2 separate regions of the Homo sapiens genome follow, and region 1 is linked to region 2. Evidence: fine-mapped expression QTL. A gene starts in region 2. The other region holds a variant in brackets. All regions are shown on one strand. Distances are from middle to middle. Region 1 overlaps USB1 (U6 snRNA biogenesis phosphodiesterase 1). Region 2 holds the start of SPMIP8 (sperm microtubule inner protein 8).

Region 1 (13,573 bases), 35 kb after region 2:
CGCTGGGTGTGGTGGCTCACACCTGTAATCCCAGCACTTTGGGAGGTCAAGGTGGACAGATTACCTGAGGTTGGGAGTTCAAGACCAGCCTGACCAACATGGAGAAACCCCATTTCTACTAAAAATACAAAATTAGCCAGCCGTGGTGGGACATGCCTGTAGTCCCAGCTACTTGGGAGGCTGAGGTAGGAGAATCACTTGAACCCAGGAGGCAATGGTTGCAGTGAGCCAAGATTGCACCATTGCACTCCGTCCTGGTCAACAAGAGCAAAACCTCGTTTCAAAAAAAAAAAAAAACAAAAAAAAAAAACGGACACAGTGGCTCACACCTGTAATCCCAGCACTTTGGGAGGCCAAGGCGGGCAGATCACAAGGTCAGGAGTTCAAGACCAGCCTGGCCAACATGGCGAAACCCCCATCTCTACTAAAAATACAAAAATTAGCTGGGCATGGTGGCACATGCCTGTAATCCCAGCTACTTAGAAGGCTGAGGCAGGAGAATTGCTTGAACCCGGGAGGTGGAGGTTGCAGTGAGCGGAGAGTGCACCACTGCACTCCAGCCTGGGCAACAGAGCAAGACTCTGTCTTGGGGAAAAAAAAAAGAAAAACAGGCTTATTTCTTCTTTGCTAATCTGTATACCTTTTATTTCCTTTTCTTGCCTTATTGCATTAGCTAGGACTTCCAGTATGAGTTGAAAAGCAATAGTGAGAGGAGGCATCATTACCTTGTTCCTGATCTTAATGGGAAAGCTTTGGAGTTTCCTATCAGTTAGCTATAGGTATTTTTAGACATTCTCTATCAAGTTAACAAAGTTCCCCTCTATTCCTAGTTTTCTGAGAGTTTTTATCTTGAATGGGTATTGGATTTTGTCAAATACTTTTTCTGTATTTATTGATAGGATCATTTGATTTTTCTCCTTTAGCCTATTGATTGGATGGATTACATTAATTGATTTTTGAATGTTGAGCCTGCTTTGAATACCTGGGATAAATCCCATTTAGTTGTGGAGCATTATTCTCTTTATATGTTGTTGTATTCAATTTGCTAATATTTTCTTGAAAATCTTGCATCTCTGTCCATGAGAGATATGGGTCTGTAGTTTTCTTGTAATGTCTTTTTCTGGTATTGGTATGAGGATAATGCTGGCCTCATGGAATAAGTCAGGAAGTATTCTCTCTGCTTTTGTCTTCTGAAAGATTATAGATAATTGGTTTAATTTTTTCCTTAAATGTTTGGTGGGATTCTCTAGTGAACCGAACCCATCTGGGCCTGGTGCCTTCTGTTTTGGAAGGTAATTTTTGTTTGTTTGTTTGTTTGTTTGTTTTTCGGAGACAGAGTCTCACTCTGTTGCCCAGGATGGAGCACACTGGCATGATCTCGGCTCACTGCAACCTCTGCCTCCCAGGTTCAAGCTATTCTCCTGCCTCAGCCTCATGAGTAGCTGGGATTACAGGCACCTACCACCACGCCTGGCTAATTTTTGTATTTTTAGTAAAGACACAGTTTCGCCATGTTGGCCAGGCTGTTCTCAAACTCCTGACCTCCGGTGAACCACCCACCTTGGCCTCCCAAAGTGCTGGGATGACAGGTGTGAGCCACAGAGCCCAGCCGGAAGGTAATTATTTATTTATTCAGGCTGGGTGCAGTGGCTTACGCCTATCATCCAGCACTTTGGGAGGCCAACACGGGCAGATTGCCTGAGTTTGAGACCAGCCTGGGCAACATGGTGAAACCCTGTCTTTACTAAAAAAATACAAAAAAATTAGCCATGCTTGGTGGCGGGTGCCTGTAATCCCAGCTACTCGGGAGACTGAGGCAGGAGAATCGCTTGAACCTGGGAGGCGGAGATTGCAGTGAACCAAGATTGCACCACCGTACTCCATCCTGGGCAAAAGAGTGAGACTCTGTCTCAAAAAAAAAATAATAATAATTCAATTTGTTTAATAGATTTAGGCCTATTTAGATTATTTCTTCTTTTGTGAGTTTTAGCAGATCGGGTCTTTCAAGGAATTGTTCCAGTTCATCTAGGTTATCAAATTTGTGGACATAAAGTTATTCATGGTATTCTTTGATTATCCTTTTATTATCCATGGGATCTGTAATGATGTCCCATCTTTCATTCCTGATTTTAGTAATTTGTGTGCCCTCTCTATTTTTCTTAGTTAGCCTGGCTAGAAACTTGTTGATTTACTGATCTTTTCAAACAACCAGCTTTTGGTTTTATTGATTTTCTTTATTGATTTCTTGTCTTCAATTTTATTGATTTCTGCTCTAATTTTAATTATTTCTTTACTTCTGCTTACTTTGGATTAAATTTGCTGTTGTTTTTCTACTTTCCTAAGATGAAACTCAGATGATTGACTTTAGATCTTTTTCTTTTTCTTTTTTTTTTTTTTTTTTGTGAGGGAGCCTCGATCCGTCACCCAGGCTGGAGTACAGTGGCGCAATCTCAGCTCACTGCAACTTCCGCCTCCCAGGTTCAAGTGGTTCTCCTGTCTCAGCCTCCCAAGTAGCTAGGACTATAGGCACGCACCACCGTGCCCAGTTATTTTTGTATTTTTAGTAGAGACGGGGTGTCACCATATTGGTCAGGCTGGTCTCGAACTCCTGACCTCCAGTGATCCACCTGCCTCTGCCTCCCAAAGTGCTGGAATTACAGGCGTGAGCCACCATACCCGGCCTAGATCTTCTTTTCTAATATATGCATTTGATGCTATAAATATTCTTCTAAGCACCTTTTGCTGCATTCCACAAGTTTTGATAAGTTATGTTTTCATTTTTATTTTGTTCAAAATATTTATAAAGTTTTCTGGAGATTTCTTCTTTGATCCGTGTGTTATTTAGAAGTGTGTTTTTTAATCTCCAAGTATTTGGGGATTTTCCAGCTACATTTCTGTTACAGACTTTTAGTCTAATTTCATTGTGGCCTGAGATCAGACATTGTATGGTTTCTAGTCTTTTATATTTAAGGGGTTCTGATGCTTACTATTTTTCTTCAGATTGTATTTTTGCCCTTTAGTATGTCTTGTAATTTTTCCTCGATAGCTGGACATGAAGTACTATGTAAAAGGAACTGTGGTAAACAGGCCTGTATGAATGTGGTGGTGAGGTGGTGGGGGACAAGAATCCTTCTGTAGTCCTGTGATTGGGTGTCAATCTTTTGGTGAGCCGGTTCCTCTGGACTGGGAACTTCCCACACGCTTCTCAGAATTTTCCCCTTCCTAGGTGGGACAGGATGACCAGAAGGTGCTGCAGTTTGGTATTTCACTTCCCCTAGGTCAGTTAAGAGTCTGATAAAACACTTTCAGGTTAGGCTGTAATTCAGTAAGTTTCTCCTGAGGGTAGACCTTGTTAAGAAAAACTGGAGGCTGGGCGCAGTGGCTCACGCCTGTAATCCCAGCACTTTGGGAGGCCGAGGCGGGCGGATCACGAGGTCAGGAGATCGAGACCATCCTGGCTAACACGGTGAAACCCCGTCTCTACTAAAAATACAAAAAAAAAATATTATCCAGGCGTGGTGGCGGGCGCCC[G/A]TAGTCCCAGCTACTCGGGAGGCTGAGGCAGGAGAATGGCATGAACCCGGGAAACGGAGCTTGCAGTGAGCCGAGATTGCACCACTGCACTCCAGCCTGGGCGGCAGAGCAAGACTCCTTCTCAAAAAAAAAAAAATAATAATAAATAAATAAATAAATAAATGAAAATAAAATTATATTAGAAGACATAGACATAGGCTGCTGTCCAAGTAATTTTCTCCCCAAACCCAGAGTAATAAGGACTTCCCTCTGCCTTCTGGGCTTCTTCATTCAGCCATGGCACCTTGGCTGAGAGAACGGCCCGCCCTCTTTACTCCTCCCCTCCAGATGAAGCCAAGGAGGAGTTCCTGGATCTGCTTGATGTGTTGCTGCCCCATGCCCAGACATATGTCCCCCGGCTGGTAAGGATGAAGGTGTTCCACCTCAGCCTGTCCCAGAGTGTGGTTCTGCGCCACCACTGGATCCTCCCCTTCGTGCAGGCTCTGAAAGCCCGTATGACCTCCTTCCACAGGTGAGTGCTTCTTCCCTCTGCCTCTCCACTCCCTCCCCTCCATGGCTTCTCCTCCTCTCCTGAGCTACTGCGGGCATTACCCCAGCAGGCAGGCAGACCTAAAGATAGAACACGGCCCCTCTCCTGGGGCTGCCTGCTCTACTTCTCATCCTCCGTGACCTTGGGCATGCCGTGGAAGCTCTTGACACCCCTGATGCCGTATCTGCTCTGTAGGAAAAGCCAGCTGTTTTTCTGTAAGCTCTTGCTCAGTACTTCCAGCACTTCTGTGACCAGATGTGTTGAGTTTTTTTCCACACCAACAAATTATCCAACTCTCCAGACACCCACTGGGTGTCCTATAATCGAACTCAATTCTGACACTAATAACCCAGGGTTAGTGCAGACTTCATAGGTTAAGGACTCAGTCCCACAAGACTGCGCTCCTTGTCAGACACCATCTGCAGTGTTGAGCTCTCAGGTTACCCACAACATCTGTCTGATTTCACTACAAATCAGAGGTTCTGTGGACCCTCTCCTCAGGTTTGATCATTTGCTAGAATGGCTCACAGAATTCAGGCAAACAGTCCACTTACTAGGGCGCCAGTTTATTACAAAGGATATGTTACAGGATACACATGAACAGCCAGATGAAGAGATAGGTAGGGTGAGGTCTGGAAGGGTCCCGAGCATGGGAGCTTCTGACCCTGTGGAGTTGGGAGTGAGCCACCCTCCCAGCACATGGGTGCGTTCTTAATCACCAAGGGAAGCTCCTCAAACCCTGTAGTTCCAAATTTTTACGGAGGCTTCATCACATAGGCATGATGGATTATTAACTCAGTCTCTAGCTTCCCTCCCATACCGGGAGGGTAGGGGGTGGGGCTGAAAGTTCCCAGCTTCTAATCATGCCTTGCTCTTTCTGTGATCAGCCCCCATCCAGGACCTCATTGCCTCATTGGAACCAAAGATGCCCCTGTCACCCAGGAAATTCCAAAGGATTTAGGAGCTCTGCGTCAGGAGCCAGGATCACAGACCAGATAATAGAACAAAAGATGCTCCTAGCACCCCTGCTGCTTAGGAAATGACACAGGTTTTAGGATCTCTGTGTCAGGAACTGGAGGCTGAGACCAACACATATGTTATCATTTCACAGTGATAGGTCAAACAGGTCATGGTAATGGTGGGAGCTACCTCACTGGGGGCCTATGGGGGTGAAAGGAGATCATGGGTGCCCTCAGCACACCACTTGGGTGAAGGGTTAGTACCAGACCCCACTTCTGGTTTTGTCTGCCAGCCTGGGGCTTTTTTTTTCCCCTTACCTATTAGATTATTTCATAACTCTTTTCCTACCAGAAATGCATCTCCTGCTAGACTGGTCCAGATCAAAACCCTGCTCTTTCACTGAGGCTCTCCCGGTTGGCATATCCTGCAGAATCCCTCCGTCCAGAGATCAGTCGGTCCTGTGGTTGTTTCACAGGTGACTCCTCTGTCCAGAGATCAGTCGGTCCTGTGGTTGTTTCACAGGTGACACCTCCGTCCAGAGATCAGTTGGCCCTGTGGTTGTTTCACAGGTGACCCCTCCATCCAGAGATCAGTTGGTCCTGTGGTTCTTTACCCCTGGTGGTCATTTCACTCACCCTCATATGCAGTCGTTCCTGTGTCCATCTTCCTTCCTGGAGCCCACATTCCTCCAGGCCAGGACTGTGGCTTCTCTCTGAATTGCCCCACAGCTTTTTTCCAAGTGCTCTGCTCACAGTAGACATCAAATAGATGCTTGTTGAGTCATGGTGCGGGAATGAGGGAGCCTAGAGAATATCTTTCTGGATCCTCTACTGTTGATACTAGAAGGAGCCTAAGAAGCCACCCGGCTGATGGTTTTCTGACCCTGCCTTTATCAGCAGAGCCTTTTTTCAAATGAGGTGTTGCACAAAAGCCTGATGTGTGGCTGTGTAAAACAGAAATAAACAGTCTTCTAGCCAAAGCCCCATTCCCACAGTTCAGGGGGCCATAGGCCCAGGAATTCCATAGGATGTCACTGCCCAACTAGGAAACTGCTCAGTTAGCTGAACCCCTTCTGAGGGCCAGAGGAGGACAGGATTTGTCCCAATCCAGACACTCGGCCAGGGAATAAGGGCTGAAACTCATCTCTCAACCTAGTCCAGCCCTCCCCCTCTTTGGATTGTCATTATCAAGTTGATTGATTGTATATTATCAGGACTCTCTTAACCACAGGTGCCAGAAGCCCATGCCAGAAGCCCAACCCAAAGTGGCTTAAACCAAAGAGAAATTTATAGGCTGGTATAACTAAAAGATTCAGAGGTAGCACTGGCTCATGCATGAGTGGACCGGGGTGACAAGATATCAGATGGCACCTGACTGTCACCACCACAGGCAGACTGTTCACCATCTCAGCTCTGTCCCCTTCCTTTGTCACAATGACGAAGCCACCGCATCTCCCGGCTAATGGTGTACCAGCCTGGAAAGACAGCCTCCCTCTCTGATTGGCTTCAGCACAAGTCACAGGAATGACTGCCTGGTCTGACCCGTCTCCTGTGTGCTTTCTTTGGGAGTAAAGAGTTAACAGGCCCTTCCCCCTTCCACAGAGAGTGCTTCCCTTATCCTGCGGAAGCTCTGCCCCTGGATGAAGGAGGAGAGCGGCTATGTTAGTGCTGATGACTGGCACACTGCACTTGCGCTAGGAAGACAGCATGAACTGCACCCCTCCAGGGAAGCCACGGCCTGGGCTCCCCTGCATACAGTGGTTCCTTAACTGGGCACGAGTCCCTTGCTGGGACTTAGGAAAACTCTGCCTAAAGTCCATTGCAAGAAATACTGATCCCTGTGGGATGTATATGTGGCTGGTTCCCTTGCTCACTGAGAGACTAGAAAACAGCACCTGGACCCCTGGGCTGGTTCCCTCTGAGGAAAGGATCTGTGTCATGAGTGAAGCCCGGGCAGGTGTGGTCTGTTCAACTTTGATCATCTGGTTGAGCCTAAGGTGACCAAGAGTGGGCGGTGCACCCCTGATTCTGTTGCTGTGACTGAGGAAATGCTAAGCTCTGTTTGGCCAGGCCTGGGCAGCCTGCCTCTGGAGTAGGGGTGGAGAGCCATCCTGCAACACGAGGTTACCAGGAGAAGGAGTTTTGGTTGGGCACAGACATCCAGTGTCCACTCCAGGATGTTTGGGAGACACCTTGAGAACTCTTCCTAAAAGCTGCACTTAACCAAGCTCCTGGTGGTTCTGTGATCCCTTACATTTTCTCCAGAGGCAGAGAGTTGGCTGACTGACTTTTGCCCTTGGGCAGATTGTGAGGCTCTACCCAGCATGCTGGTATATTATGTTCCCTCAGATGGGGGTGAGACCCTTGGCCTGGGGGCTGTAAAATGATCTGTTTCTGTGAGGAGACTTTCCATGGTGAGATTGCTAGTGTCTCAGAGAATAAAGGACAGAACCAGTCCAAGTCAAAGCACTTACCTAGCTGAGCCTGACTCTTCCCGTGTTATTGATCTGAGGGGTGGGTGGGTGGGGGCATCTGTCTCGATTTCACACCAACAGACCTATTCCCCTCACGAAAGCGTCATAGGTGACAACAAGGACTCTGGAAACAGGCAGACTGACTGTTCCAATCCTGGCTCACCAAATTCAGCTTCACCATGCCTCTGTTTCTTTGTCTGTAAAATGGGCATAATTGTAGGCCTGCTCACAGAGTTGTGTGAGGATTCGAGAAACAGAGTGTGCAAAGGCTTGAGCTCAGCCCTGACACACGAAGAAATGTTGTCGTGATTGCTTAGATGAAATCGGAGTCATCTATTTTAAAAAACTGCAAGAAATGAATCAGCTGTTAAGTGGTCCATTATCACCTACTTGATCAATAAGGCTTTCTCAGTTCCCATCAGTGAAGTTGAGATAGTCTCAAATTGTTTATCGAAATGAACTGCTATTAACAAAGTAAAATTTTTACTAGCACCTGGATGATGTTGTGTGTTACTCGGGCTGGGTGATTTTAAGGTCTTGTCCAGCTCTAATGTTTAAGGTTCAGTATACCACCTGCATAATGGGGTGATAATATGAAGTGCAAAATGAGTTAACTATATTTTCAAAGTGCTGTTTTTTTTTAACATAAGCTATTTTTTCTGCTTTTTTTCTTACGATTTTTCCTGAAATATGGTCTTCTAAATTTCAGATTCTTCTTTACTGCCAACCAGGTAAAGATTTACACCAATCAAGAGAAAACCAGGTGGGTCCTCCCAACCCCCAATCACCATCAGAGGAAGATTCTTTGGTGCAAAAATTGAGTGCTTTGTTTCTGGACTTGTTTGTCCCATTTTTTGTTTGCTTTTAACCAACTCTATGACTATAAAGGCAGCTATCCCCAAATCTGAACCTTTCTTTAAGAAAAATAACTGGGAGATCCCAGGCACAGTAGCGCATGCCTGTAATTCCAGCACTTTGGGAGGCTGAAGCAGGTGGATAGCTTGAGCTCAGGAGTTCCAGACCAGCCTGGGCAACATGGCCAAACCGTGTCTCTATGAAAAATACAAAAATTAGCTGAGCATGGTAGTGTGTGCCTGTAGTTCCAGCTACTTGGGAGGCTGAGATGGGAGGATCGCTTGAGCCCTGGAGGTCGAGGCTGCAGTGAGCCAAGATTGCACCACTGCACTCCAGCCTGGGCAACAGAGTGAGACCCTGTCTCAAAAAAATAAAAGGCCAGGTGCGGTGGCTCACGCTTGTAATCCCAGCACTTTGAGAGGCCAAGGTGGGCAGATCACCTGAGGTCAGGAGTTCGAGACCAGCCTGCCTGACATGGCGAAACCCCATCTCCACTAAAAATACAAAAAATTAGCTGGGTGTGGTGGCAGGCGCCTGTAATCCCAGCTACTCGAGAGGCTGAGGCAGGAGAATCGCTTGAACCCTAGAGGAGGAGGTTGCAGTGAGCCAAGATCACACCACTGCACTCTATCCTGGGTGACAAGAGTGAAACTCTGTCTCAAAAATAAATAAATAAATAAATAAATAAATAAATAAATAAATAATGACTGGAGGAGCATGTAGTGGGGTGGTGCCCAGAGATTGAGAGAAGCATCTTGGTTTAGTGAAAACCTGTGAAAGTCAGGAAACCTGTTTCTGCCCAGCTCCATCCCAGTTGTGGTGTTTAGTCCGTGTCTTCATCTCTGTGACCTTTCATTTTCACACTGGCACACGCCTCCCAACATCCACTGTTGGGCAGTTGTAAGGCTCAAATGAGCCCCAAGGCCTTTGAAAAGTTAAAAGTATTAAAGTGTTAGATGAACATAAGAAGAAATGATTATCCTGCCTTCAAAGCGAGCCTCCCTGTCTGATGCACTCACTGGGCCACCTTCTCTGAGCACTTCTGAAAGGGGCCTCATTTATTCATTCATTTATTCCATGCTGCACAAGTTTGTTAAGCACCCACTTGTGCCAGGCATTTGCTGTACACTAAGGATTCATCAGTGAAGAGGTAGACACAGCCCCTGCTCTTTTCAATCTCATATTCAGAGGGGAGACAGATAATAAACAAGTAATGAGAGTGTTTGTTAATAACTGTGGTGTGATATGGTCAGGAGTGGGTAGTCCAGGAGGGTACCAGGGAAGTGGCCAGGGAGATGGCATTTGATGGTGACCTGAGAATGAGAAGCCAGCCTTGGGAAGAGCTGTTGCAAGAGCTTCAAGCAGAGGACATAGCAAACTAAGTGACTCCGAGGCAGGGAAGATTTCAGCATGTTTGAGGAGGCCAGTGAGGCAGACCCCAGAAAGCACGAGGGAGAATGATAGGAGATGAGATGGGTAGGGTTAGCCCATCCAGGGGCTGCAAGCTCAAGTAAGGAGTTTGAATTTTCAGTATAATGGAAGCCATTGGAGGGATTTGAACAGAGGAGAGGCATGACCTGATCTATATCTGGGGATGTCAGTCTGGCTAGTGGTGTGTCTGTGGCCATGGAGTCTGGGGGCAAGATAGAAGGGAGCAAGAGTGGATGCAGGGAAACCAGAGAGGAGCCAGGTGTCATTGTCCAGGTGAGGGACCATTGGTGGCCTAGATTAGGGTGATGGCCATGGAAGACCAAGAGGTGGACACATTGGAGATACACTAGAGGCAGAAGCAACCAAATTACCAATGGGTTGGATTTATGTGAAGCAAGGGGAAGACGAACATTGATTCCTGGGTTTGAGGCTAGAACAACTGGCCCCGTTTTCTGTGATAAGAGACACTGGTGGGATGAAAAGCAAAAGTGCTGCTTTGTACCTGTTTGTTTGTACCTGCTAGGTTTTGCTATCTATTGGACCCCTAGGTGGAAATGTCACATATACAACTGGGTGTTCAGGAGAGGGACCAGCTGGAGATAGAAATGTGGGCAGTGTTGGCCTGTGTGGGAAGCGGGGCTGGGTGAGATCAGCCTCCTGGAGAGTGCAGATGGAGAAGATCCAGTGATCTTCACCACGGGGAGGCTGGAGAGGAGAGAGGGTGGCAGAGGACACTGAACCGGGAGACAGGAGGCAGGATTAAACCAAGACTGCGTGGCAGGTGATGTCTTGGGAGCCAAGAGAGAAAAGGGTTTCAAGGAGGGAAGAGTCCACTGTGTGAGATACTGCTGGGTGCGTACGAGGCGGACAGCGAAGTGTCCCTTGGATTTGGTAACGTGGAGGTTGTTGGCAACTTTGACAAGAGGACTCCCAGCAAAGTGGGTTGAAGATGGGAGGTGAGAAAGAGATAGTGATGGTGGACAAATGGTCTTTTTGAGAAGTTTCACTGAGAATGGGATGGGGACGTGCTGAAACCGTGGGTTCAGGGGAGAGTTTTTAAAGATGAGAGAGCATGCCTGAGTGCTTGTGGGAGGCGTGGCAGATGCCTGGGAGCAAAGTCCTCGAGAAGAGGCCTCCTTGAGGACAGGAGTCATTTGCGATTGGAATGATGATGGAGAATGGGGGTGCAGAAGCTTCTGGGTTTGTGACTTGGCAGTGGTGGGTGAAGGCGTTCCTGGAAGGGTTATTAGATCCAGAGAAGGGAGGAGAGCTGTGTGGGTGAGAACTGGGAAAGGAAGATTTACAGACAGAGAATCTGAGGACTGAGAGAGTTGGCTCATGGAGCAGGAAAGCGAGTGTACCAGGGAGACGGTGAGACCCACGGCCCAGGCCTCTTGGCCTTCTGCCTGGCTCCTGCTCGGCTGCGCAGATGGCTGTGTTCTCAGAGGCTACATCTCATGCCTGCGTTGTCTTCCTCTCCCCAGGACCTTTATTGGGCTTGAGGTCACTTCAGGGCATGCCCAGTTCCTGGACCTGGTTTCAGAGGTGGACAGAGTCATGGAGGAATTCAACCTCACCACTTTCTACCAGGTAATGAATGGGGCTGCTGCTTCTCCATTGACCCATTTCTAATGAGAATAAAACTGTCTTTAAAGAAGCCCTCGTAAGAGGCAAACCGAAGACCCTTCAGAACCTCCCGTGTCGGTGCTCTGAATGCCAGCCTTCTGAGGATGCACACCTCGGGGGGTGAGGGCTTTGAGGTGTAGTCAGATGCAGCCCACCCAAAGTCCAACATTTCTTAGAAATTTTGCTTTATATCCTAAATACGCCCGAGATTTGTACCTTCTGCTCCATAATGTTCCCGTGTTGTTTTCACATTTTTTAAGTAGATGTCCCTAATAATTTTTGGTCAGATTGACCCTCAGAGAGGAGTTGTAGCTTCACACACCTTCCTGCACCTTGCCCAGGCCCTCCAAGGGCACTTGGACTCTAAGTCGACTCTCAGGGCTTTGAAGGGCCATTCATTTTATTTGATATATGTTTTTAAACCGTGCTGAGGGAGATAAGTATGAATTTGAATGGAGACAATTATTGTTGCTTCAAAACTTGAGACTTTGGGGATTTTGTTCATGTCATCTGAAAAGTATGGTGTATACTGGAATGTCCTAGATCAGAATAGAGGGTGGATTTTCTTTCATGTCACAGATGTAATGACCCTCTGATACTTCAGGGAAAGCCTCTGTGAATACGACTGTCTTAGCTCAGGCTGTCATAACAAAATACCATAGACTGGGTGGCCTAAATAACAGAAATTTATTTTTGCACAGTTCTGGAGGCTAGAAGTCCAAGATCAAGGTGACAGCATGGTTGATGTCTTTTTTTTTTTTTTTTTTTGGAGACAGAGTCTTACTCTGTCGCCCATGCTGGAGTGCAGTGGCGCAATCTCAGCTCCCTGCAACCTCCGCCTCCCAGGTTCAAGCAATTCTGCCTCAGTCTCCCAAGTGGCTGGGACTACATGTGTACAACACCACGCCCAGCTAATTTTTGTATTTTTAGTAGAGACGGGGTTTCACCATGTTGGCCAGGCTGGTCTCAAACTCCTGACCTCAGGTGATCTGCCTGCCTTGGCCTCTCAAAGTGCTAGGATTACAGGTGTGAGCCACTGCACCCGGCCAAGCGTGGTCGGTTTCTGGTGAGGGTTCTTCCTGGCATATAGATGGCCGCCTTCACATGGCGGGGCAGGGGTTGGGGGCTACAGAGAGAGAGAGCAGTGCCCAAGCTCTCTGTGATTAAAGGGCACTAATCATGAGGGTCCTGCCCTCATGACCTCATCTAACCCTAATTACCCCTCAAAGGCCCCATCTTTACATACTATCACATTGGGGGTTAGGGCTACATGAATTTGGGGGAGGTGACACGATTCAGTCCATAGCAAGGACCAGTCCTGTGCTGTTTTGTCTGTCTGTGGAGGGTGCTTGGGATCAACACTGAGTATCTTGTCTCCCACTGGGCAGGCCAGGGATCCAGCAGGGATGTCACGACAGCTCTGTCACAGACCTGCTGTGAGGGCAGGGCCTGCCAAGGCGTCCGGGTGACTGCCTGCCTCTCGTTTCCCTCCCCAGGATCCTTCTTTCCACCTCAGCCTGGCCTGGTGTGTGGGTGATGCACGTCTCCAGCTGGAGGGGCAGTGCCTGCAGGAACTACAGGTGAATTTCCAGGGCGGGAGCACAGAGGGCGCTGAACTCCAGAAATGACAGGACAGATGCTGGAGAGGGGGAGGATGAGGCACCCAAACCTGAATCCCTGGGAAACAAATGACATGGCAGGAGACCCCAACACCTTCCCTTGTGACTCAAGGTGTGGCCCCTGGACCAGCAGCTTCAGTGTCACCTGAAGCTTATTAACAACACAGATCTTTGCCCCCACCCCCACCAAGACCTAAGAAATCAGAATTACATTTTAACAAGATCTCTGGGGATTTGTGTGCACATTACAGTTCTAGGGAGCACTGCCCTAGAACACTGATCTGCGAGGAGGCTGCAGGCTTTCCCTGAAGTCCTAGCCACTTGCCCAGAGGTCAGAGGCTTGGGCCTGGCACTGAAAATGGGTGAAATGTACCAGGGGTAAGGAACATCCAGCCCCCAGAGTCTATCAGATTTTGATAAGTAGCTGAAAGATTCCACTTTCCCATCTGCGCCCTTGGAGGAGAACCAGCAAGTTACATGAAGTGGTAAGCGGCGGCTGATACTCCAGCCCTGGTTGGGGAGACAGTAGGGAGTGTGGCCATGCGGGAA
Region 2 (12,122 bases):
GGCCAGGACGCAGGCAGGTTCTTTCTGGCTTAGAGTCTTCTCTGGGCAGGGTCTCAGCAGCCCTGCCTTGGGCTCTGCCAGAAAGGCTGTGTCCCAGGCCTGGGCCTTGAGGATGGATCCAAGACCCGGCAGATGACTGAGGCATCTGACCTGCCCTGTGAACTGAGGCTGGACACTTGAAGGGATACAGAGATCTAGGAGGAGAGGGTGCAAGGGACAGGGCCCAAGGAAGAGGGGCTCAGTGTGGTGGCCCTGAGGGATATTTGGCAAAGGGCAGGACTTGACTTAATTATCCGCACCATTTCTAGAGTTCTTCCTTTCCTTTCCTTTCCTTTTTTTTTTTTTTTTTTTAAGCCACAGTCTCTCTCTGTCACTCAGGCTAAGTGAAGTGGTGCAATCACAGCTCATTGCAGCCTCAACCTCTCAAACTCCTGGATGCAAGCAATCCTCCTGCCTCAGCCTCTCATAGTATTGGGATTACAGATGTAAGCCCCTGCACCTGGCCTAGAGCTCTTCCTTTGTGCCTGGCAGTGTGCCAGCCTTGGCACACTGAGCAAGACAGACATAGGCCCTGTCCTCATGGAGCTTACATTCCAATGGAGGAGATTACTGACAAATAAAGAATATTGCAAATTATGCTAAGTGCCATAAAAGAAACAAACAGGGCAGAAGCATGTTGTGGAGGGCAGTAGGGGCAGGTAGGCAGGCCCCTATGACGAGGTGGATGTATATTTGAACTGAGACATGAAAAGTAAGAAAGACTCAGCTGTGAAAAAAGCTGGGTGAGTGGTGCTCCAGGCCAAGGACACTGCAACGAGAAAGGTTCTGAGGCTGGAATGAGCCTTGAGGAGCAGAATGGGAACCGGGGAGCCTGGAGCTTAACGGGTGCAGGGGAGAGTGGTGGGAGATGAGGTTGACAGAGGGCAGGGGCAGATGTTGTGAGACTGTAAGCCACAGGAAGGAGTGTAGTTTTAGATGATGGTTTTGAACAGGGGCTGGGCATGATCTGTGTGGCTCTGTGTAGCAGGCAAGCATGGAAACAGGAAACTGGTCAGGAGGCTGCGGAGGGACAAGCTGATTGGTGACTGGATGACCCCTGGCTTCCCCTCCAGTGTTGGGCTTCAAGACCTCTGATAATGCAACCTCTACATGGCAAGTGATTCACAAGAAAGTTCTTTCTGCCAGCAAGGCCAGACCCCAACGGTAAAGCTCAATGTACTCCCTGACCCTTCCCTACAAATATGCCAGGCTGCAGGGGTCAGAGCTCCTCCCCAAGGAACAGCAGCAAGCCCTTCTGCTCTGCTTGGGCCTGAGACTAACACAGGTGACATTCGCCCTTGCCTGCAGCCTGACGGGAGGGATGATGGGGCTTGGACTATGCTGGTGGGAGTACAGATAGAAGGGAAAGGGGAGGAAAAAGGCGGGCATTGAGGGGCTCACCCTGGGAAACTGGGTAGCTGGTTTAGTGGGTGAACCAGTAAACCGCCCCAGGCTGGTTTACACATGTACTGAAAAGAAGAAGCCTGAGGCTGGAAGTTTGGAGGAAGAATTTTGGAGGGAAAATCATGAGCACTACTTTGTTAAGATGTCTGAGAGAGGCTGGGTGCAGTGGCTCACGCCTGTAATCCTAGCACTTTGGGAGGCCAAAGCAGGTGGATCACCTGAGGTCAGGAGTTCAAGACCAGCCTGGCCAACATGGCAAAACTCCGTCTCTACTAAAAATACAAAAATTAGTCGGGTGTGGTGGCAGGTGCCTATAATCCCAGCTGCTCTGGAGGCTGAGGCAGGAGAATTGCCTGAACCCGGTGGGTGGATGTTGCAGTGAGCCAAGATCACACCACTGCACTCCAGCCTAAGCAAAAAAAAAAAAAAGTCTGAGAGACATCCAGGTTGAAATGTGTGTGTGTGTGTGTGTGTGTGTGTGTGTGTGTGTGAGACTTAGGGAGAGGTCTACAGGAGATAGAAATTTTGGAGGCCTCAGCTTGCAGATGATGCTTAAAGCCACAGGACTGACTGATATCACCTCGGAAACCCAAGGAAACAAAGATGACCAGAGGTGGCACCTGGAACACGGGCTCACTCAGAGGATGCAAAAAGAGCAGGAGCTGGTAAAGGAGCCTGAAGGAGCTGCCAGGGATGGGGATGGAGAAGCAGAAGCATGGGGTGAGGTGAAAGCCAAGAGTAGTGGCTGTGTTGGGGTGAGGGAATGATCCAAGGGGCCACTGTCTGAGCTGAGACTTGAAATGCGTCCTGAGATTGGGCAACTTAGAGGCAGTTGGAGCCCCTGCAGAGTGGGAAGGAGGGAAAATTAGATGAGCCTGAGGGAACAGTAGTGGGCTCTAGGGTGGGGAAAATGAGCAAAACACAGCCACACACAGTGGCTAAAGTTTGGATGAAACTCATGTGCATATATATGGAGAGAAAGAAGCCAGATTCAAAAGAAGACCCCAGTGATCCATGCATACAAAATTCCCAAAAGGCAAAATTAGTCTGTCCTGTCTATGGCTACAAACACAAGTACATTTGCCACCTCTAGTTTTCTATAAAGCCTAGAGTTGTTAAATAAAGTTTTCCATAGTTGCCCATAAATAAAAGCACAGGTTGTACTACAAGATGGGAGAGTGGTTCCTTCTTGCTGGGTTGGGGGTTGTAATTGGGAAGGTGTATGTGGAAGCTTCTAGGGACTGGCAGGGCCAATGTCTTGCTTTCTTTTACTAACTTGGCTGGCATCTATTTTTCAAAACAAGCTTATGGGAATATATATGCCATAAAATTCACCCATGGTAAGTATACAACTCAATGACTTTTATATTACTTATTATTTATTTATTTATTTAAGACAGGGTGTCACTCTATCACCCAGGCTGGAGTGCAGTGGCGTGATCATAGCTCACCGCAGCCTCGACCTTCTGAGCTGAAGTGATTATCCCACCTCAGCCTCCCAAGTAGCTGTGACCACAGGCACATGCCACCATGCCCATTTAATTTTCATATTTTTTGTAGAGACAGGGTTTCGCCATGTTTCCCAGGCTGGTCTCGAACTCCCGGGCTCAAGCAATCCACCCACTCGGGGTTCCCAAAGGGCTGGAATTACAGGCGTGAGCCACCGCCCCGGCCTAACTCATGATTTTTAACACATTGACTGAACTGTGCAACTCTTGCCACATCTGGTTTTAGAACATTCCCGTTGCCCCAGTAAGACCCCTCACACCAGATGATAACCACTCTTCATTCGTACACCCCAGTCCCAGGCAACCACACATCTGCTTTCTGCGTCTATAGATTTGTCTTTCCTGGACATTTTATATAAATGGGTCATACAATATGTGAGTTTTCACATCTGGCTTCTTTGATGTAGCGTAATGTTTTATGAGGTTCATCCACCTCGTAGCTTGTATCAGAACTTCATTTCTTTTCATTGCCCAAGAGTATTGCATGGTATAGACGCACCACAGTTTATCCACTCATCAGTGGACACAGGTTGTTTCCACTTTTTGGCGATACATCATGTTGCTATGAACATTTGTGTGCAAGTCTTTGTGAAGATATATACTTTTTTTTTTTTGAGACGAAGTCTTGCTCTTGCCGCCCAGACTGGAGTGCGATGCTGCGATCTCGGCTCACTGCAACCTCCGCCTCCCAGGTTCAAGCGATTCTCCTGCCTCAGCGTCCTGAGTAGCTGGGATTACAGGCTTGCACCACCACGCCCAGCTAATTTTTGTGTTTTCAGTAGAGACAGGTTTTCACCATGTTGGCCAGGCTGGTCTCAAACTCCCAACCTCAAGTGATCTGCTCACCTCAGCCTCCCAAAGTGCTGGGATTACAGGTGTGAGCCATCGTGCCTCACAATATACTTTCATTTCTCTTGGGAAGCCTCCTGGGGTAGAATCTTCCAGATGACCCAATCATATGGTACATTTCTGTTTCATTTTTTAAGAAACTGATAAACTGTTTTAAAAGTAGTACTCCATGTCTTGACCAGGGTGGGTGGTAGTTATACGGGGTCTCATTTTGTAAATTATTAGTTACATTAGATATTTATTCACTTTCTGTATTTCTTCTATTTTATAACTTTAAAAGAGTCAAGAAATAAATTGGGGGTGGGGTGGTGAGTGGAGTCAACTCTGGGAAGGTTTTTTGTAAGGGGTAGCAGTTAGGAATGCTGTTCTGGAAGCTGTATGGAGCACTGGAGGAGGAGCAACTGGGGAAACAAATCCTACAAGAATTTCACAGGAGGGGCTCCAAGACCCATCAGGTTCAGCCCCTGGGCAGGTATATGCAAAAGCACATGCCAATATATGCAAATAAGTTAGGATCTCCTGGGGTTTCCTCACCTTGGGGGTCTGTCTCTAATGGTTGTGACCAGGATGGTGGGCAGGCCCCAGGGCTTTGGGGTGCTGGCCTTGGGCACTCACAGCCTGGCTTTTCTGGGAGCCTGCAGTCCTGCAGGGGCTGAGGGTGGAGTATCATCTGCTAATCCCTGGCCTGCTGAGTCCACCACTCTCCCTGATCCCCTCACGCTTACCCTGGATACTGGCCACAGCTAATCTCCACTCCTGGAGACTCAAGGGCTGGCAGACAGTGCAGTGCCCTCTTCCCTGAGGGTTCCAGGGAGGGGAGATCCCTCTCAGCATCCAGATCCTCCTAACGGCAGATCCTAGAGTCCTTGCCTAACACAGAGGAGAGCCTTGAGTCCCAGAGAGAGGCGGTAATTAGCCCAGGATTACACAGCCTGCAGTGGGCTCAGTAGCCATTTCTGGCCTGCCTTGGCCTGACTACCTCCAGGGAACCCCAGCTCCCCATCTGACATTTCCCAAGATGCCTGGCCTGTGCTAAGGCCTGGGAGACCACAGCCTTCAGGAAGGCTGGAAGGGAGTGGCCAGAGCACAGGAATTCTGGCACAGGCTCTTGTTAGAGCCTGTAGTTGCCAGGGTTGCTAAGGAGTGGGTGCCTCAGAATCAGGCTGCAATGGGCATTGTCTGTGCACAATGTTCCTTTATTCTGCTGCTGTCCATAATAAGGGCTCGTCCACCTCCCTTCCTCTTCTGCCCATTGAGCAGTCAAAGAACTGAAAGTCCTTATAAGCCTGTGCACCTGGGCCTGGGCCCTACAGATAAGGTAGCTGCTATTGGTGAGTCAGAAGCAGGGAGCCCTTGCTCTCTTCCCCATATCCGTGATCCCCCTCCCTGTCCCTCCCCAGGCAGTCACATCCCCTAAGGCAGCTTCCCCATGCCTTGTCACCATGCCCCCTCCCTGCTCCTCCATGATCTAAGGTCCTCTCTCCTCCTGCCACCCTAGCTTCCACCTCCACCTCTCACCTCTAACTCAGGGTCAGGAAGAAAGCAAGCTGTCTCAACAAATTCTCACTAAAGTGTAAATGACTGAAAGGCTCCTGGGACTATCTGCTTTTTAAAGGGAGGCACTGGGTATCCAGTAATGCTTTTCTAGTTTAAATATATCATGTTGCTCCCCTTCCTGAAAATCTTTCTGAGTCAATCTGTAGAATTTTGGGTAAATAGCTAGGGCAAGTCCATAATTATTCACCCAGAGGTATACGGCATACTAAGCTACATTCTGAACCCGCTTGCTGCTGCACTTTCCTGCTTATTATTTAAGAATAGACTCGCCAGGCAAGGTGGCTCACACCTGTAATCCCAGCACTTTGAGAGGCTGAGGCGGGTGGATCACTTGAGGTCAGGAGTTCGAGACCAGCCTGGCCAACACAGTGAAACCCCGTCTCTACTAAAAATACAAAAACTAGTCACATGTGGTGGTGGATGCCTATAATCCCAGTTCCTCAGGAGGCTGAGGCAGGAGAATCACTTGAACCCAGGAGACAGAGGTTGCATTGAGCCAAGATGGCGCCACTGTACTTCAGTCTGAGCAGAAGAGTGAGACTGTCTCAAAAAAAAAAAAAAAAAGAAAAGAAAGAAAGAAAAAAAAACGAATAGACTCAAATACCACCTCTTTTAGACCATTCCTTGAATGTCCTAACCCCAGCCTCCCCAGAAACACACACTCTGTACTGACCTCCCTCACAGCCATGGCACAATGTGAGTGTGTGTGTGTGTGTGTGTGTGTGTATGTGTGTGTTGGAAGGGGAGTGGGAGGGTTGTCTCTGTTATCTTCTGTTATCTGAATGTTCCTGCCACCTCATGCTGAGCTCCAGAAAAATGGCCTGGCACACAGTAGGTGCTAAATAAATGTTTGGCAAGTAGACATCGGCACTGGCCAAGGTTGTTTTCATGCAGAGAAGGGTGTCTGGCCAGCATGAGCCCAGGGTGAGCCCCTTAGAACCCTCTGCCCCCCAGCTATGGCCCGCATCATTGACCTGGTGCCCTGGGACGATGGCTCCACACATGTGTATGCCTCCCCGGCCATCCTGCTTCCCATGGAGCGGCAGCGCAACCAGCTGGCGGGCGTGAAGCAGCAGCTCTACCACCCAGCCCTGCCCACCCTGCGCCACATGGACAGGGACACCGTCAAGGCCTGCCTTCCTGATGAGCACTGCCAGTCCACCACCTACTGCCGCAAAGGTTAGGACACCAGTGTAGGATCCCCTTTGGGGAAGGGGCAGATGGTTTCAGGAAAGAGGGAGACAGATGCAAGGATGAAAGAGGCCAGTCCCAGCTCTGCTGCTCCCTGCCCAGGACACTTTGGCCAGGTCTGAGCCTCTGTTTACTGCTCAGTACAATGAGGATAATTGACAAGGCCTACCTCAAAGTGTTGTTGTGGGGTTAGAAGGAGATAAGGCACAAAAAACACTTAGAGGCTGGGCGCAGTCCCAGCACTTTGGGAGGCCAAGGCAGGCTGATAACCTGAGGTCAGGAGTTTGAGACCAGCCTGGTCAACATGGTGAAACCCCATCTCTACTAAAAATACAAAACTTAACCAGGCGTGGTGGCAGGCACCTGTAATCCCAGCTACTTGGGAGGCTGAGGCATGAGAATTGCTTAAACCTGGGAGGCGGAGGTTGCAGTGAGCCGAGATCACATCACTGCACTCCAGCCTGGGCAACAAGAGTGAGTCTCCGTCTCAAAAAAAAAAGCACTTAGAGTAGTGCCTGGCACATAATATGTGCTCAAAAAGTATTGCTGATGCCATTGTTGTTATTGTTGTTTTGTTTTTTGAAGACAGTGTCTTACTCTGTCGCCCAGGCTGGAGTGCAGTAGCATGATCACAGCTCACTGCAACCTCGACCTCCCAGGCTCAAATGATCCTCCCATCTCAGCCTCCCGAATAGCTGGGACCACAGATACGTGCCACCCTGCCCTGCTGATTTTAAAAAATTATTTGTAGAGACAGGGTCTCCCTATGTTGCCTAGCCTGGTCTCAACTCCTGGGTTCAAACGATCCTCCTGCCTTGGCCTCCCAAAGTGCTGAGATTACAGGCATGAGCCACTGTGCCTAGCCTGTTGTAATTAATGGAGAGAGAACTGGGCAGAGGTTGACAGGTGCAGTGGTAGGAGTCATAACAGTAGTAACTTCTGCCCAAGCATCTCTGTATGTGGAAAAGAGAGAGAAAGACCTCTCCTCACAGCCCCCATGCAGGAGAGGAAGACGTGTGGGCCTTCAGGGCAAAAGAGCCCCACGGGCCTAGTGAATAACCCCGCATGGACTGAGGAGCTTGCGTGTGGAGGGATTTAGAAGGTATTTAGCAGATAAAGTCAACAGGAGTAGGTGCAGGCGGGGCAGGGTAGGAGGCCAAACAGGGGGAGTGCAGGCCCATACCTAGGCTCCAGCTTGGGTGACAGGTGGGCTGAGGGTGTCAGAGACCGCACGGAGATTACCAGAGTTGCCACATGGGCCCTAATGGGAAACACAAGTGAGGGAAGTGGGTGGGGAGGCCGTGGGGAAGGAACACTCCACAGGGAAAAGGGGCACCCACACCTGCCCTATTTAAACGGCAGCCACGGGGTTCCCCACAGACTGTGCTATGTTGGAGGGGCCAGCCAGGTCACCAGTTCTTCCAATTTCCCGCTTCTGAGAGAAGCCAGGAATCTAGATTTTTAAGGAAAGCTCTGATGTAGATATGTATTTTATTGTAAGCATATGCTTTAAGTAAAAGTAATAGTCAGAACTTCAAAGCTCAAAATGCTATAACAATATGCACAGCAACAAGGCTCACTCCCACTGCCCCCGCATACAGGTAACCACCCCCCCACCACATTCTTAGTTTCTGATGTCTCTCCCTGGTTTACTAATGGGAATATAAACACATGTTATTTTGCTCCCCAACTTTTTATTACTGTTAACTGAAAACCCAGAAATTTGTAAATTTAGGCAGGGTACGGTGGCTCACACCCACAATCTCAGCACTTTGGGAGGCCAAGGCAGGCAGATCACGTGAGGTCAGAAGTTCGAGACCAGCCTGGCCAACATGGTGAAACCCCATCTTCACTAAAAATACAAAAATTAGCCGGGCGGGGTGGCGGGTGCCTGTAATCCCAGCTCCCAGGCTGAGGCAGGAGAATCACCTGAACCCGGGAGGCGGAGGTTGCGATGAGCCGAGATGGAGCCACTGCACTCCAGCCTGGGTGACAGAGCGAGACTCCATCTTCAAAAAATAAAAATAAATGTATAAGTTTAGAAAAGGAGACTTTATTTCTTACAAGGGGTTATAGCTGCCAGGTGGCCATCCCACAGGCTGGAAAGTGTGCCTCCAGCTTAAGCCCAAAGATAGGCATGTCAAAGGAGGAGGGGTTGGGTAAGAGCTTTATGTTCAAAGGGTTGGCTAAACATACATATTCAATAGTTTATAGGAGGAGCTATGAATATTCATGAAGATAGTACTGACATGGGCATATTGAACAAACATGCATGTAACATACAACCCATGTTCGCTTTGAGGTGGAGACTTAACCTTTAAATGTATTACAATTAGTCCCTATACGTCAAAAGTTCTTTTCAGGACGCGAAGCCCAGCAAGTGAGCAGCCTCTGTATGCTGGGCAGGACCAGTCCATGGTTGGTGGTCTTCTTACCTGGAGAAAGTTACTGAAATCAGCCTCTTATGCAATCAAAGGCATAGCTGTGGCTGGTGGATCAGGGGGTCAGTTCATCAGCATCTGTGAGCTGTATGAGTTGTAATTGTTTTAATATTGCTTATCTCAAGTCCAGGGCTAGAGAAAAAGAAAAACCTCATGGCAATTAAAACATAGCTTATTTATTTTTGTGTTTTGCTTTTCGTTTTGTTTTGTTTTGTTTTTTTAGACAGAGTTTCTCTCCATCACCCAGGCTAGAGTGCAATGTCAAAAACATGGCTCTTTACAGCCTCGACCTCCCAGGTTCAGGTGATCCTGCCACTTCAGCCTCCTGAGTAGCTGGGACTACAGGCACACACCACTATGCCAGGCTATTTTTGTTGCTGTTGTTGTTGTTTGTTTGTTTTGTGTGGAGACAGGGTTACACTATGTTGCCAGGGCTGGTCTCCAACTTCTGGGCTCAAGTGATCCTCCAGCTTCAGCCTCCCGAAGTGTTGGAATTACAGGCGTGAGCTACCACGACCAGCCTGTAGTTTATTCTTTAAGTGTAGGGGTGCGTGACTTAACCCTTGCCTGGCATGGCCTTAGGTCCTGTTAATAATCTGGTATCTTGGCCGGGCGTGGCGGTTCACGCCTGTAATTCTAGCACTTTGGGGGGCCAAGGCAAGTGGATCGCCTGAGGTCAGGAGTTCAAAACCAGCCTGACCAATATGGTAAAACCCTGTCTCTACTAAAAATACAAAAATTAGCCAGGTGTGGTAGTGTGTGCTTGTAATCCCAGCTACTGGGAGACTGAGACAGGAGAATTGCTTGAACCCAGGAGGCGGAGGTTGCAGTGAGCCGAGATCGCGCCATTGCACTCCAGCCTGGGCAACAGAGTGACACTCCGTCTCAATAATAATAATAATTATTATTATTATAATAATAATTATTATTATTATTATTATAATTTGGTATCTTATTGCCACAAAGAGTCTGTTCTCTTAGTCTTGTAATCTCTCTCTCTCTCTTTCTCTTTTTTTTTTTTTTTTTTTTTTTTTTTTGAGACAGAGTCTCACTCTGTCACCCAGGCTGGAGTGCAGTGGCGCTATCTCGGCTCACTGCAACTTCCGCCTCCCCGGTTCAAGTGATTCTCCTGCCTCAGCCTCCTGAGTAGCTAGCTGGGACTACAGGCGTGTGCCACTACGCCCAGCTGATTTTTGTATTTTTAGTAGACATGGGGTTTCACCATGTTGGCCAGGCTGGTCTCAAAATCCTGACCTCAAGTGATTGGCCTCCAAAACCACTGGGATTACAGGCGTAGCCACCGCACCTGGCCTTGTGATTGCTAGTTTAACATTAATGCTGGTCATTTATTGTGTCTAAACCGCAAAAAGGCAGGGGTGGAATGAAGCATGTCTGACCTCCTGTCCCATTATGGCTGGGAACTCAGTTTTTCAAGGTTTTGGGGGATCCCCTTAGCCAAGAGGGGGGTCCGCTCAGTCAATACATTGCGGAGACCTCAGGATTTTATTTTTAGTTTACATGATAAACATTTTCAAATGGAGAAAAGTTGAAAGAATACTACTATGAGTACCCACCACCTTCCTCCTGCTTCAGTTGATTTTTGCCATATTTTTGCTTCTCTCGCCCTCTCTCTTACATTCTTGGACACCCTTTAGCAAGCAGCTCCCAATGACAAAAACATCCTTCTACATGACACAATACCATTATCACACCTAGGAAAGCTAACAATACTTCTACAACATCTAATATCCAGACCATATTAAAATCTCCCCAATTGCCCTCAAAGATGTCTTTTCTGGCTTTAAAATGATTTTTTGGAACAAGAATTCAATCTAGGATTACGTATTTCAGTTACTTGTTATGTCTTTTGTCTTAGTCTAAAACAGTCCACCCAGTTTCCATTGCCCACCATCATACTGACTTTTTAAAGTCTCTAACAGTTGTGTTGTAGACAGTCCCATATGGTGAATTTGAGCCACTGTTTCTTCATGGTGTTTCTTATCTTGTTAATCTATTTTCTGTAAACCAGCAGCTAGGTGTAGAGATCTGAATCACCAGGTTAAACACTGCTGGCCAGAATCTTTCACAGGCGACAGATGCCGTGTTTGCCATAATGCTGCAGCAGGAGGCACAGAATTTCATTATCACATTATTTGTGATGCTAAGTTTGATTATTTGGTTAAGGTGATGACCTGAATATATATTCTCTGTTTCCAACAGTCTATGTTTAGTCTACCATTTTAAAGCAAACAGTAGGCCGGGCGCAGTGGCTCACGCCTGTAATCCCAGCACTTTGGGAGGCTGAGGTGGACAGATCACTTGAGGTCAGGAGTTCAAGACCAGCCTGGCCAACATGGTGAAACCCCATCTCTACTAAAAATACAAAAATTAGCCAGGCATGGTAGCACGCACCTGTAATCCCAGCTACTCGGGAGGCTGAGGCGTGAGAATCGCTTGAACCTGGGTGGCGGAGGTTGCAGTGAGCCGAGACCGCGCCACTGTACTCCAGCCTGGGCGACAGAGCGAGACTCTGTCTCAAAAAAAAATTTTTTTTAAAGCAAATGGTAGCATATTGTATATACCCATCTGCACCTTGGAGTTCTTGTATAGAGAAATTCCTCAACTTGTTAATTTATTTATTAAAAACAAGGTCTCGCTATGCCACCCAGGCTGGAGGGCAGTGGCATGATCACAGCTCACTTGCAGCCTTAAACTCCTGGGCTCAAGCAATCCTCCTGCCTCAGCTTCCTGAGTAGCTGAGACTACAGGCTCGAGCCACCATACCTGGCATTTTTTGTTTTGCTTGATTTCTAGGCACTCTTTCAATATTAAGGAATATTAATTAATATTAATATCTGTAAAATAAGTGGAAATATTTTTTCCATTTGTTTTTTGACATTTGTTTTTGCCATGTAGAAGTTTATTTTTATGTATTTAACTTATCAATCTTTTCTTTAAAGCTTCTGGATTTTTAATTAAAATTATTAAGGCCTTTCCCATCCCAAGATTATAAAAGAATTTGCCCATGTTCACTTTTTACATTGGAATCTTTGGAGTTTTATTCTGTTGCAAAGGTAAGATGTGAATACTATTTTATCTTAGATTTTTTTTAAGTTGTCAAATTAAAAAAAAA

Evidence for each region. PIP is the estimated chance that this variant, and not a neighbour inherited with it, causes the effect. A credible set is the group of variants that fine-mapping cannot tell apart.
Region 1: its variant is the best candidate, but not a certain one, in a credible set for the expression of SPMIP8 in tibial nerve (GTEx, PIP 0.85).

Annotation. Positions count from the first base shown.
Region 1 is chr16:58,006,071-58,019,643 of GRCh38, forward strand. USB1 (U6 snRNA biogenesis phosphodiesterase 1) reads left to right here. Exons shown (of 7, transcript NM_024598.4): 3 at 3,859-4,042; 4 at 8,203-8,256; 5 at 11,264-11,369; 6 at 12,902-12,985. Among named protein-coding and RNA genes, the nearest start is that of USB1, 11 kb to the left of the region's middle. RefSeq lists enhancers at 6,141-6,673, 6,674-7,205. The variant G/A (reference allele first, on the strand shown) is at 3,532.
Region 2 is chr16:57,971,504-57,983,625 of GRCh38, forward strand. SPMIP8 (sperm microtubule inner protein 8) reads left to right here and starts at 5,041. Exons shown (of 8, transcript NM_199456.3): 1 at 5,041-5,131; 2 at 6,312-6,536. The coding sequence starts at 6,314.